Linked DNA regions of Homo sapiens: region 1 is linked to region 2. A link means that fine-mapping ties the variant in region 2 to the expression of a gene that starts in the linked region. Tissue or cell type: whole blood. Region 2 holds a variant in brackets; the other region holds the start of a gene. All regions are shown on one strand. Distances are from middle to middle.

What was found. PIP is the estimated chance that this variant, and not a neighbour inherited with it, causes the effect.
Region 1: it holds the start of RAP1GAP2, and the variant in region 2 is fine-mapped to the expression of RAP1GAP2 in whole blood (TOPMed, PIP 0.97).

The regions. Positions count from the first base shown.
Region 1 is chr17:2,791,867-2,799,973 of GRCh38, forward strand. It overlaps RAP1GAP2 (RAP1 GTPase activating protein 2), which reads left to right and starts at 4,572. Exons shown (of 25, transcript NM_015085.5): 1 at 4,572-4,705. The coding sequence starts at 4,662. RefSeq lists an enhancer at 799-1,038.
Region 2 is chr17:2,992,258-3,000,364 of GRCh38, forward strand. RAP1GAP2 (RAP1 GTPase activating protein 2) reads left to right here. Exons shown (of 25, transcript NM_015085.5): 13 at 3,080-3,209; 14 at 5,964-6,119. Among named protein-coding and RNA genes, the nearest start is that of RAP1GAP2-AS1, 30 kb to the left of the region's middle. RefSeq lists a silencer at 2,521-2,697 and an enhancer at 2,947-3,447. The variant TGG/T (reference allele first, on the strand shown) is at 3,696.

The DNA.
Region 1 (8,107 bases), 200 kb before region 2:
TTTTTTTTTTTGAGATGGAGTCTCACTCTGTCACCCAGGCTGGAGTGCAATGTCACGGTCTTGGCTCACTGAAACCTCCGCCTCCCAGGCTCAAACGATTCTCCTGCCTCAGCCTTCCGAGGAGCTGTGATTACAGGTGCCCGCCACCATGCCTGGCTAATTTTTGTGTTTTTAGTAGAGGTGGGGTTTCACCATGTTGGCCAGGCTGGTCTTGAACTCCTGACCTCAGGTGATCCGCTTGCCTCGGCTTCCCAAAGTGCTGGGATTACAGGCGTGAGACAGTGCGCCTGGCCGCTTCCCTTGTCTCTTGACTCACAATCCTTCCCAGGGAGCCCACAGTCTCCTTGCTGTGCACGGCACATGGAAGAGGAATCACAGGGTCAGAGCAGGGGGTCAAGAAGCTGCGCGGGACTGAAGCAGGGACAGAATCGTCCTTGACAGTAATGATAGCAGCTCCCGTGACGGCCTTGGAGCCCCGTGCTCAGTGTTTCTGTTTGCTGATAAACTCGTGAAGGTGGTGGCAGCCTCCCCAAATTACAGAAGAGAAAACTGAGGCCTGGAGAGATTAGGTAACTTGCCCAAGGTCGCTGGGCCCCAAGGAAGGAGAGGAAGGCAGCGTGGGAAAGGCCCTAGGAAGACTCTCACACCCTGCAGGGCTCATGATGGGCCATGAGCCGTCTGGGAGAGTCCCTTCCCCCTTTCCAGCCCTCAGTCTGGGGACGTGTGGGCCCCTGGATCCTCCTGGTTTCTCCAAGGTTCCTGGATCCCAGCGGCATCGAAGAAGTCCAGGCTGTGGGTTCTGCAGGGCCGGCAGCCGGGCCAGTCCTGCTCCTTGGCCGGGTGTCTGACTCAGGAGTGTTGTTTGTGGCTGTCAGGGGCACACCCCCCGGTGGGGGAAACCAGCCTCAGGGTGGCAGCAGCGGAGGCCTCGAAACGCACCCCTTCCCTGTCTCCAGGCTGCCGTTCAGATGTCTGTGCCTGGGCCGGAGTCTGTCCCGGCTCTGGGAACACTTGGTCCAGGTGTTCATAGCTGGGCATTTACCTGGCTGTCTCCATAGACCGGGAGGCCCCAGATAAAAGCATCTGTCAGCTTTGTCTTCCCCTAGAATGCATGCGGCGGGCAGCTTTCACATGTGGTCAGTGTGGGTGGTGAGGCGTGCCCAAGTGTGATGTGACTATCACCCCGCTTCTCTCTCATGTATGAAAGCGCATCAACGTATACTCCAAAGATGGGCCTGTCATTAACTCCCTCTAACTGATTTTTTAAAAAAGTAATTTGCAACAGGATTTTTTTTTTTTTTTTTGAGATAGAGTTTCGCTCTTGTCGCCCAGGCTGGAGTGCAGTGGCGTGATCTTGGCTCACTGCAACCTCTGCCTCCCAGGTTCAAGCGATTCTCCTGTCTCAGCCTCCTGAGTAGCTGGGAATACAGGCATGTGCCACGACGCCCGGCTAATTTTTGTACTTTTAGTAAAGACAGGGTTTCACCATGTTGGCCAGGCTGGTCTCGAACTCCTGACCTCAGGTGATCTCCCTGCCTCGGTCTCCCAAAGTGTTGGGATTACAGGCGTGAACCACTGCACCCGGCCTGCAACAGGAATTCTTGCAACGTATGCAACACCTCCAACCCCAGCACCTCCCAACTGAGGCTGTGGGCTGTACCTGGCTCACCCTGGTGCTTTCTGCACCCAGCATGGTGCTTGGCCTAGAGCAGGTGTTGCTGTCAGCGGCGGGAGGCCAGGTGGGCTGACTGTTCCCACTTTCACTTGTTCACTTGTCAAGCTCTTTTCTTTAGTTGGGACTTTATTAATGGAGAATGAAAGAAATCCAACTCATACTGGCTTTAGGAATAACTCTTTATTCGTACGGCTGGCTCTCCTATACCCGGGGTCAGCTGGTTCCTGGCACAGCCGGATCCTGGAGCTCAGATGATGCCCTTGAGACTCAATCTTTTGGCCGGGTGTGGTGGCTCCCGCCTGGAATCCCAGCACTTTGGGAGGCTGAGACGGGTGGATCACCGGAGGTCAGGAGTTCGAGACTAGCCTGGCCAACATGGTGAAACCCTGTCTCTACTAAAAACACAAAAATTAGCTGGGCGTGGTGGCGGGCGCCTGTAAACAGATATGTGGGAGGCTGAGGCAGGGGAATCACTTGAACCAGGGAGGTGGAGGTTGCAGTGAGCCGTGCCACTGCACTCCAGCCTGGGTGACAGAGCGAGACTCTTCAAAAAAAAAAAAAAAAAAGACATGATCTTTCTCCTCTTTCCCTTTCTCTGTCAGTTCTCTTCTCTGCCTTCCTGTGAGTCGGTTTCATTTTCCCCACACTCTCCACAGCCCCAGGCTTTCATCTCATGCTTCAGCAGGGGAAGCCTCTTGGGATGGTGTCTTGTTGGGTTTACTTAGGTCTCCTGAACCAGTCCCCTTGGCTGGCCAGGCCTGGTCAGGTGCCCACTCCTGACCCTGGAGGTGGATTGAGTGCAGAGGGTTCTTCTCAGATGGAGGCAGGGCAGGCAGGACCCAAGTTGTCCACGGTACCTGTTGAGCACTTCCTGGGTGTGGGTGGGTGCCTCTGGGGAGAGAGGCGCTTGTGGCACTCTGCAGTGGCCATCCTGTGGGAAGCCAGCAGCCTGAAGCCACCCCAGAGCATGAACCACACAATCCTAACTTTCCTGGGGCAGAGGTGAGGGTTGGGGGAAGCCTCCGGGCTCCTGCTGGGGACTAGCTGCCTTGGAGGTAGAGAGTCAGCCCCCAGCCCTGCTCTGGCCCAGGACCCTGAAGCTGCTCCCCCAGCCCACTCAGGGCTTGAGGCCCCTGTGCTGTCCCCTGCTGTGAAGGAGTCAAGAAAATAGAAATCCTTGTACCCTTCGTCCACAAGCTGGGGTTGGCCCCTGGCACCTCAGCACGGAGTCTAGGACCTTCACAGTGGCAGCAGGTGCCAGAGAGGAAATTTCAGGGAGGGTTGGCCAGAGAGAGAGGCCAATGGCACCAGCTAGGGCCGTTTTTTTCCTTTTTTTTTTTTTTTTTTTTTTTGAGATGGAGTTTTGCTCTTTGTTGCACAGGCTGGAGTACAACAGCATGATCTTGGCTCACTGCAACCTCTGCCTCCCAGGTTCAAACGATTCTCCTGCCTCAGCCTCCAGAGTAGCTGGGATTATAGGTACCTGCCATCATGCCTGGCTCATTTTTGTATTTTTAGTAGAGATGGGGTTTCACCATGTTGGCCAGGCTGGTCTCGAACTCCTGACCTCAGGTGATCCACCCGCGTTGGCCTCCCAAAGTGCTGGGATTACAGGTGTGAGCCGCCACACCCGGCCTTTCTTCTTCTTCTTTTTTTTTTTTTGAGACGTTTTCTTCCCTTTCTCCACTGCTTGGGGGTAGGGTGGGGCCTGGGGCCCTATCTGTGCCCACTCCCCCCAGTGTCTGTTGTAGTGTACGTGCCACATCCCTTTGAGGGGCTGCCATTAGTAAGTGCCTGCTGTGTACCAGGTGTGGTCAGCACCAGTGCGTGCAGAGATGAGCACTGGCCCTGTGGTGTGCAGACTGGGATGCGTGCAGGACACGCTAGCCCTGTGGCATGAGGACCAGCACCTGAGCATGCAGAGATGAGGACGAACCCTGCGGTTCAGCTGGGAAGACAAATCCACCCGCACATGGGTACCGCCCCCCCACCCCACACAGCCAGCGTGAAGCATGCCACTGCTCTGACCTCTGTCTAGACACTTGGCGGCGGGGGTGGGGGGCGGCTGACAGGTACAGCTCTGTGCCCATGTGTGTGTACATGCGAATGCCCCTTGCAGTGTGATGTGGTCTGAGTATGTGGATGAGTGCCTGCGGGCACATGTGTATGCGTTCATGTCTGTGCACGTGTCCAATGGGGCTTTGTCAGTATGTGAGAAGCGTGTGCAGGTGTGTCTACTGATGCCTGTGTGAAGTGGTGTGTGGATGTGCACGGGAGCGTGTGTGCCGCGCTGTGCTCAGGTGTGTACAGGTGTCTAATGATACGTATGTCTGCGTGCATGTATCTGTGTGTACCTGGGTATCCTGGGCGTGTGTGTGTCCATGTGTGCATCCCACGTGCCCCTGTGCCCATGCGTGTGCATGTATACTTACATCCACGTGTGCTAGTGGAATGACATGTGTGTGGCTGGTTCCTCTGGCGTGTGCCGAGCCATGGTGGGGCAGGCAGGCAAAGGTCCCTGTCTCAGGCAGCCCTCGGGAGTGGGTGTGAAGGTCCCCAGTGCTCAGGCGTCCCTGAGGCTTCCAGCTGAATCTTTCTGTCCCTCCTAGGCGTGGCTGTGGGAATCCTTGGGGCGCCTTTGGGTTCCAGGAAGCTGGGGCTGTGTGGGCCGGGCTGCTAACTGGGGCTGTGGAGCAATCTGCCAGCCGAGCCCCTTCCGGAGCTGTGGGTTCCTCTGGGTGTGGGGAAGCTGCCCTCCACAACCTCCTCGGCCTATCTTGGTGCCTCCTGGAGTGCAGGACACACCTCCCAGCTCTGCAGCCTCACCCACAGGAAGCTCGGGTTGGGGGCAGGCGAAGAGGGAGGTGCCACGCTGGGCTCCCCGCCCTGCACCGGCACTGACCCCGCTGTACCACGGCCCTCTTGCGGACAGCCCCGGGGACGTCGTTGGGACATCGCTGGGACCCCGGGCTCTGCAGCCACAACCATGTTTGGCCGGAAGCGCAGTGTCTCCTTTGGGGGCTTCGGATGGTGGGTGACAGGTGGGAGGGTGGGGGAATGATGGGAGAGAACTTAGAAGTGAAGTCTTGTTAAGTGCATTGGCGGCCGTGGGAACAGAGGGGCTCGGGCTGTGCCTGAGAGCTGGGTCTGCTGACGCCCTGGCAGGTCGAGATGCAGGATCCTGGTGGGGACATCAGAGACCGTAAGCCTTCCCCACTGTCCCTGGGCACAATCTGCTGGCGAATCCTGGAGGTCTGCGCCGGCTGCCCGTGGGGAGGTGGATAGCATGAGTGTGACTGCAGTTGAATGTGTGTGTCTCTGTGTCCGCAGGTTCCCATGTATGTGTGTGCGTGTCTGGGATTATGTGTAAGTGTGTGTGTGCGCGTTTGAGCCTGTGTGTGCAGGCGTGTGTGTGTGGCTGTGACTGCCAGTCCGTGTGACCGTGTGTGAGGTGTGTGCCTGTGCATGTGGGCAGCTGCCTGTCTGCACTTCTGGCCTTCTGTGTCTGTGTGTGCTTGTGTCTGCGTGTTTGTGTGTGTGATGCTCCTGTCTGTGCTGTTGTTGTGGCCTTGTGGCAGGGGAGTCTGTACCTGCTGGACCTCTGGGCTGCCTGCTGTCTTGGGGGTGGGTTGTGAGAGAAGGTCTCCCACCTGCACCCCAGGCAGCCCACCCTAGCTCTGTCCTAGCCTGAGCAGCTGCATCTGTCCCCAGCCTCCTGCCTGGCCCTCTGGACACTCTTGCCTCTAAGCTTCTGTCTGGGATGAGGGATGTGCTTTTTCTTCCCGGCGGGGGGCAGAAGGTAGGCACACGAAGGCCAAAGGCTTGTCTCTGGTTCCCAGTGCTGGCAGCTTCTTCGCAGCTGGGGAACAGAGTCTGGTGGTTTTCATGATCGGTTTCCTTTCAGTGCCTGGGCTGGGGGCGTTGTCAGACTGGGAGAGGGCCCCGCGGGAGGTGGCCGGGGGGTGTCCCGGTGTGGAAAATGGTGGACTAATGGGGGTGGCACGAAGGGCGAGGGGGAGAGGGGCTGTGTTCCTCGGTAATTTTTCGCTTCCGTGTGTGTGGCTTATTTCCCTCTTCCTCCTCTTCAAAAGCACTTTGCCATCCATCCTCTGGCAGGGGGGGACTGTGGGCACTCCATGTTTGGCAGATGGGATGGTGCGGATGAGAAGATGGCACAGCGTCGCCTGTGTCTGCTCTCGGGCCCTCCCTGACGCCTGGATCTGGGAGCTGCCACCCCGAGGGTAGGTGCCAGTGTCCGGGAGGCAGCAGAGGACTTGGCTTCTGGTTGGGAGGGGTGTGTGTGTCTTGGCTGTGGGCCTTGCAGGGCAGGGCCCAGCAATTAGATTGTGCCCTCCAAGGCCCGCCTTTCTCTGGGAGGTGTGGAGCAGATGGAAGGCTGGTCGCCAGAAAGCTCCGGGTGCACAGGTCCCGGTCTCAGCCTAGCTTCATTCCATATGAAGCCCTCTGTGTTGAGACCCACAGCTCCAGAGCACAAGGCAAAGCCAGGCCTGAGATTTGAATCTGGGCAGGTGAGGGGGAAGACAGGAGTGTGGCTGCCCAGGGCTGCCAAGATAGAAAGCAGAATTCCAAGTTCTTCTCTAGCAGCCCTTCTCACTGGGGCTTCCTTAATGAAATGCACATTCAGATTCAGGAGGTCTAGGGTGAGCCGAAGGTGGAGGAAGAGCCCTAGGATGTCCCAGACGCCCTTGTGTGCTGGCTCAGTGTCCACTAGGCTGTGGGTTCCAGGAGGGCAGGCCCTGCCCCGTCGCGTTCACCTGGAAGCCTGGCATGTCACACAGGCTCAGTCGATGCTTGTGGACTCATCGAGGTCTTTTGCACACAGCAGGTGTCTGCTTGGGGCCCCTTGAGGTTGACGGGATGGCGGGGCCTTCTGGGCTTGGAAGGTTAAGGCAGCAAGAAAGGGGGCGAGACTGGGGTTTGGGCCTCCTCATCTGGGATGGCTGTCAGCTGGGAGGGGGTGTCACGGATTCCTGGAGCCCTGGTCCCTCCAGACAGTGAACAGAATCTCTGGGGCTGGTGTTTTCCAAGCTCCATTGGATGCAGGGTGGATAACCTCTGGCACCAGGGGCAGACAAGGTGATGAGGGTGGGTGGGATGGGATGGGAGAGGGAGGAGTGCCCAGGAGCCTTGGCTTCCTGAAAGGGAAAGGCCCAGCCTCACAGTCCTCTCCATCTCCCATCTCAGCCTCTCCAAAACCAGAGCCCTGCCCTCCTGAGGCCACACCCTGATGTGGGAACTCTGGTGGGCTGGCTGCTGTGTAGGCGTGGTTTGAACCAGGGCTGCTGTGACCACGGTGCCTGTAGGTGGTGCGGTGGGCGGGGCTGACCCGACAGCGGTCAGAGGTGCACGCACCAGGAGCCCCGGTTCCAGCGGTTCCAGCGCCGACTCCACCTTGACCATTGAGGAACTCTAATGGGACACTTCCTCTCTCTGGGTCTCAGTTTCCCCTTGTGTCAGTGGGGGATTTCTGCCTTACCCACAACACAGGGCTGTTGTAAGAATTAGGAGATTCCTTGAGAAAATGTAAAACCTAAGCGCCTGCTGTGAGGGGCTGCCATCCGGCAGCTCTGGGTTGCACGCGTTACAGCAGAGTGTGGGGCTCTGAGTCCTGCTCGGATCTGGGTGTCTGTGCGTTGAATGGGGGAAGAGGAGGGTCTGCACCCCAGAGCGGGTGGGGATTCCAGGGTGAGACCCTCAGGGACCAGTAGTGGAAGCCCTAAGGAAGGGACTCAAGAGGACGTGTGAGGAAGAAACTGGGAGAGACGTGGGCCAGGCCCCTCGGGGTGCCGCTTGCTTTGCTGTTGTAACTGAGATCAGAAGGTGCTGGGAGTTTACTCAGAGTGAAAGGACCCCGTCCCCTAGCTCCAGGCCTCAGGGTGACTTGTGGGCTGGCTCAGCTCCGTGTCCTCTCCTCTTCCCTGGAGCTGTGACTGTGGGAAGCCTGAGGCAGCGCTGGGCTGGCCAGAGAAGGGTGCCGGAAAGAGCCTCCAGGGTCTCCAGCATGCTGGAGCCAGTGGCAGTTTTAGTGAAGCTGACAGTGATGGTGACACTGATGATGACATGTGGTGACATGGACAGTGATGGTGACACGAATCGTGATGTTGCAAAGGCAGCATTGGTGCTGGTGGCAGTGCTGGTGACAGTGGTGGTCACGACCCTTCCACAAGAGGAGATACTGACAGTGGGAACACTGTCCACCTTTCTGCCTCTGGAGAGGGAGGAGGGGCCTCTTCTTGCCAGCCATAAGGGCTGGCATATGCAGGGGGGTAAAAATAGAACCTCAGCGGCGCTGTCTCCCCTTCCAGTGAGGGCGGGCACAGGCTGGGGATGGAGGAGCTGGCTGTGAGGGCAGTCTGCAGCAAACGTGATCTTCCCCGCTCTGAACCTCTGTGCCTGATACAACCCACCAGG
Region 2 (8,107 bases):
TCAAGCGATTCTCCTGCATCAGCCTCCCGAGTAGCTGGGACTACAAGGCGCGCGCCACCATGCCTGGCTAATTTTTGTATTTTTGGTAGAGACGGGGTTTCACCATGCTAGCCAGGATGGTCTCGATCTCCTGACCTCATGATCCGCCCGTCTGGGCCTCCCAAAGTGCTGGGATTACAGGCGTGAGCCACCGTGCCTGGCTCAGTCTATGCTTTTTTAAGTGGGCAGTAAGATAGAACATTGGGGCCGTTGCTTGGAAAACTCTGGCCCTTGACTTTCCTTGGCCAAGACCGCATTTGGGATGAGTCCAGACCTGGCCAGCCTGTTTTGTCCTTGGTGGCTGGCAGATGGCTCCAGGCCCCAGAATTCTCCATCCCAGCAGCCAGATTGACATGAGCTCCTCACATCGTGTGAAAATACCTAGCCCAGTGCCTGGCACACAGCGGATATTCACTAATTGCTTTCTTCCTCTGCTTCCTTCTCTGTCCTTCCTTCTTTTTCCTTTCCTCTCTTCCTCCATCTTCTCCCTCCCTCAAGGTCATCACGGCTGTCTGGGGTCAGTCACACCTGGGATAAAACCCCCGCTCCATCACTTATTAGCTCTGTGACTTTGGATAAGTGACTTGACCTCTATAAGCCTCAGTTTCCTCACTGTAAAAAGCGAGATAAAGGGCTGGGCTCAGTGGCTCACGCCTGTAATCCCAGCACTTTGGGAGGCCGAGGTGGGTGGATCACGAGGTCAGGAGTTTGAGACCAGCCTGGCCAATATGGTGAAACCCCGTCTCTACTAAAAATACAAAAAAAAAAAAAAAAAATTAGGCAGGCATGGTGGCAGGTGCCTGTCGTCCCAGCTACTTGGGAGGCTGAGGCAGGAGAATCGCTTGAACCCAAAAGGCAGTGGTTGCAATGAGCTGAGATTGCGCCAGTGCACTTCAGCCTGGTCAATAGAGGGAGACTCTGTCAAAAAAAAAAAAAAAGGAGGTAAAGATAGTGTCAGCCCTAAAAGGTTTTGGGGGGATTAAAATAAGATAATGGGCTGAGCGTGGTGGCTCACGCCTATAACCCCAGCACTTTGGGAGGCTGAGGCGGGCAGATCACGAGGTCAGGAGATTGAGACCATCTTGGCCAACATGGTGAAACCACGTCTCTACTAAAAATACGAAAAATTAGCCGGGCGTGGTGGCACGTGCCTGTAGTCCCAGCTACTTGGGAGGCTGAGGCAGGAGAATCGCTTGAACCCAGGAGATGGAGGCTGCAGTGAGCTGAGATTGTGCCATTGTACTCCAGCCTGGGTAACAGAGTGAGACTCTGTCTAAAAAAAAAAAAATAAATAAATAAATAAAAAATAAAAGATAAGATAATGCTCACGAAACACTTAAGTGCTGTTCAGGGCTAGCTAGTCACGATTGTTATTGTTCTTATATTGCCACCTTCCATTGACTTTGAGATGCTATCATTATAAGACACATCCTGTGACTTTAAAATGTGAAAAAACGGCCAGGCATGGTGGGTCTCACCTGTAAGCCCAGCACTTTGGGAGGCCGAGGCGGGTGGATCGCTTGAGCCCAGGAGTTTGAGACCAGCCTGGGCAACATGGTGAGACCCTGTCATTAACAAAAATTTGAAAAATTATAAAAATTAGCTGACTATTGTGGTGTGCTCCTGTGGTCCCCGCTACTTGGCAGGCTGAGGCGAGGAGGATCGCTTGAGCCCAGGAGGTTGAGGCTGCAGTCAGCCATGATTACACCATTGCGCTCCAGCCTGGATGACAGAGTGAACCCCTGACTGAAACCAAAACTAAACGTGGGCCTTAGAATAGCTGAAATACAGTATAGTAAGCCCAGAAGGTCCTCAGAGTTATGAAATTCTATCCCTTTATTTTATGGAGGCCTAGAGAGACTAAATGAATTGTCCACGATCACGTGCTGATTTAGTGGCAGAAGCAGGTCTAGAACCCGGAGCTCCTGCCCCCTGTCCAGCATTCTTTCTGCCATGCCAGCCTGGGCACATTTTCTGGCTTGTATTGTAGTGTTGGGGATGCTGAGATTCTAGGTCCATCTTATTTCATTTTCTTAAAGGAACCTGCATCTGCTGAAGACTGTGATCAAAGCTGGCAGCCGTGTGTATAAAGGCAGAAGGGACAACTCCTGGAAGCCCACCCAGTTCCTTAGAGCTTTTCTTTCTTGCCTGTGAGGAGACAGCCAGAGAAGGGACTTCCCTGGATACTCCCAAGCGGGATGCTGCAGTGGTTGGGCCTGTATCTTAGGGACTAGCTAGGCAGAAGTTGAGCATCTGCCACCTCTTCTGACTGACTCCAGATGCTCCTCTGGGGCTCCCCACCAGCCACCAGGATGGCTGGCTGCCCTAGCTCTGGGCAGAGGACTTGGACATGGCCTTGCAGAGAGCAAAGAAAGGCCGGCGCCCCACCTTGGGGGAATGGCACCGGGGATGGGCATTTGTCTGGGATTGTGGATGGATGCGCTTCCTTCCCATATAACCAGCAAGTGTGGACACGGCACAGCCAAGGCTTGAGATGGAGGTTCTGCTTTGTGATTGATTGGTTGATTGATTGATTGATGGAGTCTTGCTCTTGTTGCCCAGGCTGGAGTGCAGTGGCGCCATCTCGGCTCACTGCAACCTCCACCTCCTGGGTTCAAGCGATTCTCCTGCTTCAGCCTCCTGAGTAGCTGGGATTATAGGCATGCACCACCATATCTGGCTAACTTTTGTATTTTTAGTAGAGACGGGGGTTTCACCATGTTGGCCAGGCTGGTCTCGAACTCCTGACCTCAGGTGATCTGCCTGCCTCGGCCTCCCAAAGTGCTGGGATGACAGGCGTGAGCCACTGCGCCCGGCCAGCTTTGTCTAAATAATGGGTTTGTGGGTAGAGTGCCAGCGCTGATATACCTGGAAGAACAGATCTACCTGCTTTTCCCACATCACAGCCTGCTCTGCCCTCAGCTCTCCTGTCTCCTCTGCTGCGTATCCTCTGCTGCGTATACTTAGGGGAGCTTGCATTAAGTTGCCCACTTTGCCTCACTCTCTTTTCTCCCCATCTCCTGCCCTGTTTTGTTGACAGTTTCCGAGGAGGCCTGGACGTGACCCACGGACAGACAGGGGTGGAATCAGTGTACACAACATTCCGGGACAGGGAGATCATGTTTCACGTTTCCACAAAGCTGCCATTTACCGACGGAGACGCCCAGCAGGTAACCTGGTTTGGGAGGGCTTTGGGAGCCCAGGGCGGGCGAGGTGAGGGCCTGCCTCTGGTCTGACCTGCTAAGAGGCTGTGGCCGTCCCCATATTCGTTCCCGTAGCCGGCCATTCGTTCAGCTGCGCAGCAGCGTCACAGTCCGTTCTGCTGTGTTTCTGGCCGAGGCTGTGCCTCAGCGGTCCGTTCTGTTGTGTTTCTGGCCGAGGCCACACCTCAGGGGCCCTGGGCGGGAGGCGGGGCAGAGCTTGTGTTTCTTCCACGTTGACTGATGGGAAAACTGCAGCCCATGGTGGTGACAAGACTTCCTTGAGGTTTCTCCGTTTATCAGGGGCAGAGCCCAGGGCAGAGCCTGGGGGCCCTGGTCATAGAGGGTGGTGGCAAAGGGTGCATGGTGGGGTTTGCAGATGGGGGCCTGAAGCCGCCTGTGCCACTTTGGAGCGTGTGACTCTGGGCAAGCCAGTTAACCTTCTCATCTATAAAA[TGG/T]GGGGTAACACCACCCATGGTAGAGGGTGATTGTGGGGATTACATACATTTCTGACTAGGGTTCATACGATGCCCAATTCATGGCTGGCTTCCTATAGAACAGCTGTTCACTGTCCAGCCCCTGGTCATTTTGTCCCCCTTCCTGCCCCAGTGACGGAAGGCTGGTTATTGCGTGAGAATCCTTCCCCACCCCCAGCCTTCCTCATCTCACAGGCTCCTCTCTCACCACACCTGTGGGAATTCAGCCTTGACCTCCACTAGGGAGACCTGGACGAGACCCCTGTCCCCACTGCTTTCCTGCCGTGCCCCCCGTTTGCTGCTCTGACAGCCGTGCATCCCTGGGGAGAGCCGCGGCTGGTTCCTGGCTGTTACAAGCCCAGTTCCCCCAGCCTGCCTTCTGCCCCTTTTCAGTCTGGGAAAATAAGAAAATGCAGGCAGGCCTTTGCCCAAACTCTGACCTGTGTGTCTCTGAGCAGGAACTGGGGAGGGAGCACAGATGTAAAATTGTAAACATAGTGCCTGGCTTCTTAGGAAAGAAGGAAATTGGCAAACGAGATGATGAGTTGGCTCTAAAATAGCTACTGAATGTTCCAGAAACAAATGGAAGCAGAAATCCTTTTGTATCCAAAGTGGGTTTTCATTCAACCTTTCACCTCCAGCCCCTCTGTTCCCTTATGGCCTCTCTCACCTGCTGCCCCGGCCTGGGCCTGAGGCCTGTTCTCTCTGGGCCTTCTCAGTCTTATGTGTGTTTCTTGGGAAATACACCTTGGCACAGGGCTCGGCTCTTGGCGGGGACTGAGTAAATATTAAGTTTCTCTTCCTGAGAAATGGAAAGATGCGCGTGGAGTAAGTGAGGCAATTTGTGTGAAAGTGCCCAGCACAGTGCTTGGTGTAAAACAGGTGCTCAGTGAATGAGAAACTCAGTGTGAAGGGACTGAGCATTGGGCCTGCATGCAGTGGGTGCTTAACAAAGGAACAAATGCATAGACAGGCACCTAGCCAGGACTCGACATACAGGAGCGGGTTTTTGTGTGTGTGTGAGGAGGGCTGTCACTCTCTCACCCAGGCTGGAGTGCAGTGGTGCGATCATAGCTCACCGCGGCCTTGAACTTCAGGACAGGGTTAACATTTGATATCATGCATGAACAGCCCAACATGGTTCCAGGGACACACCAGGTGCTTGGTGGCCGAGATCACACCCAGAAGCACCTGGCCCTGCTTGGGATATGGAGTTATGGTTGGGATCCTCCTTCCATCCCACCTACGCCAAGCTGGGTGAGCAGTGCTGTCATGATCTGCCACCTCATCACTCTCATTCACACCTTCAAGACCCCCTGACACGTCTCCTCCTCCAGGAAGCCCTCTCAGGTTGCTTTCCAGCCCTGTAATTTTGCCCTTGCCTCTGTCTCCAGAGCTGTCAGGGATTTCATGCACAGCAGCTGACTTAGCCCTTGCTGGCTGGTGGCTTTGTTAGTTTTCTCAGGTGGCTTCACCTGTGTTTGTATTTCTCCCAGATCAATGACAGGCTCTACCAGGGCAAGACCCCGCCTTGCCTTTTAAATATTCTTGCCAAGTCCTGAGTCAGGGATCTGCATGCTGTAGAGGTCAGTAAGATGCTCGCTAGCCTCTACCTAACGACTTGGCCATCTTCCCCATTTTTTTTTTCCTTTTTGGTGGCTTCTAAAGATTGAAAGAAGGTTGGGCACAGTGGCTTATGCCTATCATCCCAGCACTTTGGGAGGCTGAGGCGGGCTGGTCAGGAGTTTAAGACCAGCCTGGCCAACATGGTGAAACCTCGTCTCTACCAAAAAATACAGAAATTAGTGGGTGTAGTGTCACGCGTCTGTAATCCCAGCTACTCGGGAGGCTAAGGTGGGAGAATCACTTGAACCCAGGAGGCGGAGGTTGCAGTGAGCCGAGATCGTGCCACGGCACTCCAGCCTGGGCAACACAGTGAGACCCTGTCTCAAAAAAAAAAAAAAAAGAAAAAAAAAAGATTGAAAGAAGAACCCCCCTGGTTTTCCCCAAATAGGAAAGCAACTCAAAAGATACACAAAGCACGAAGCGTGTTCCATGCACTTCTCCCCTTGCTGCCTGGCATTGGTACTGTGCTTTCATACTTAAACTTCCAAAACAACAACCACGAACTCTTCTCACTCAGAATTCAGTTTTCCTGTGTGCAAAGGAAAGTGAACCCACTCTTTCCCCAAAACATCTTTCATGATTTTCCTAACTGGCTTATAACCTCTCAACACTTTTTATTTAGCTCCAGAGAAAGAGACACATTGGAAATGACATCGTGGCCATCATCTTCCAAGAGGAAAACACGCCGTTTGTCCCAGACATGATAGCCTCCAATTTCTTACATGCCTACATCGTCGTGCAGGTCGAGACCCCAGGCACAGAGACCCCATCCTACAAGGTAAGGAGAACGCCTTGTTGGAGGGAGTGGTGGGCCTCGACACCTCACCCTGTGTGGATGCTGTGATATCAGAGGACACTAGTCCTCAGCAGTCAGAGATTCTCCATGAGTTTGCAGGTTTCTGGGGTTTGGAGCTAGATTCTGGGTAGGGAGGACCTTCCAAGGCCACCTGATCCCCCTTGCTGCCTCCGGGCTCAATGGCATCTCACTTGAGGATTGAGGAGGTGTGAGTGTAGTATTTGGAATTTGGTGATGCCATTTGCTCGCTGTGAGTGTAGTATTTGGAATTTGGTGATGCCATTTGCTCGCTGTGAGTGTAGTATTTGGAATTTGGTAATGCCATTTGCTCGCTGTGAGTGTAGTATTTGGAATTTGGTGATGCCATTTGCTCGCTGTGAGTGTAGTATTTGGAATTTGGTGATGCCATTTGCTCGCTGTGAGTGTAGTATTTGGAATTTGGTGATGCCATTTGCTCGAGTAAGGCAGAGCTGGAATAAAGAAAGAGCGTGGAAAGGACGAGCAGGAAAGGGTAGCGATAGAAGGGTGCTAACGAAGGAAAAAAAGAAAAAAATGTTGATGGTGAGGGTGGAGAGGAGGGGCCTGGTAGACCCTGGCCACTGGGTAAGGCCCTGGCCTGGCTGTTTTGGACAAATGATGGATCTTAATTTAAAGACCTCCAGGGAGGCAGATACGCAAGCACCTGGGTCTGAACCTCCCAAGCAGTCACGGGTCTGTCAGATGGCTCGAAATCCTCACCGGTGCAGATGACAGCGAGACAGGGCAGCTCATTGCCCCTGCAGTCCCCCGCTCCCCACTCCTCATGGCTGGATCTCTGACCCTCCCTCCTCTGCTCCACGAGAAAGAATCTCCACCTCTTGGGCAACAGTCTCTTGGTATCACAGTGCTGTGGCGGGCATGGGACTCAAGGGCGTTGGACTGAGGCAGGCTTTCAAGGCAAGGGTTAGGCAGTCTCTGACTCCCTGCAGATAAATGCAAAATGCTGAATTTGTGCCTTTCCTTGGATTCCTGAAAAGAGAGGCCATACCTTAAATTCTCAAAGCGCTCCCTGCTCCGCAAAATATCAGGAACCACTGTTCTAAGGGGGAGGAAAGATGAGCCTGTGATTGCCAATGGGTAACCATGAGGCCTGAAAATGTTTCCCGTCAAATAATTTCAGCCCATCCTGATTCCTGGGGTTCATGAGGCCACAGCAGTTCAACTCAGTTAAGTGCAAAATTCACGTCAGCTTTTAAAATGTGATGTGAATCGTCAGAAGAAAATAAAAAGAGGCTGGGCACGGTGGCGTACGCCTGTAATTCTAGCGCTTTGGGAGGCAGAGGCAGGAGGATTGTTTGAGGCCAGAAGTTCAAGACCAGCCTGGGCAACATAGCGAGACCCTGTCTCTAAAAAAAAAAAAAAACAGAACAAAACAAAATAAAACAAAACAAGCAACAGAAACCCAATAGCAACCCCCTCCTGTTGAGGCTGATTCCTTCATGCCCAGGCTCATGTGTCCCTGCCATTGAGCAGTTTTAGCTGAAGCTGGCGAAGACATGGTGTGAGCATTTATTTTCTTTTCTTTTCTTTTTGAGACAGAGTCTTGCTCTGTTGCCCAGGCTGGAGTGCAGTGGTGCAGTCTCGGCTCACTGCAACCTCTGCCTCCCAGGTTCAAGTGACTCTCCTGCCTCAGCCTCCCAAGTAGCTGGGATTGCAGGCTCCTGCCACCATGCCCAGCTAATTTTTTGTATTTTTAGTAGAGACGGGGTTTCTCCATGTTGGCCAGGCTGGTCTCGAACTCCTGACCCCAAGTGATCTGCCTGCCTCTGCCTCCCAAAGTCCTGGGATTATAGGCGTGAGCCACTGTGCCCAGCCCATTTCTTGAAGGCTATAGGATCACCTGCTTTGAGTGAAATGGGCATTCACTTCAAACAGCTGCTCGATTCAAGTGTTGGTTGAAGCAAGTTGACTTACTCAGTGCCTACTGTGCG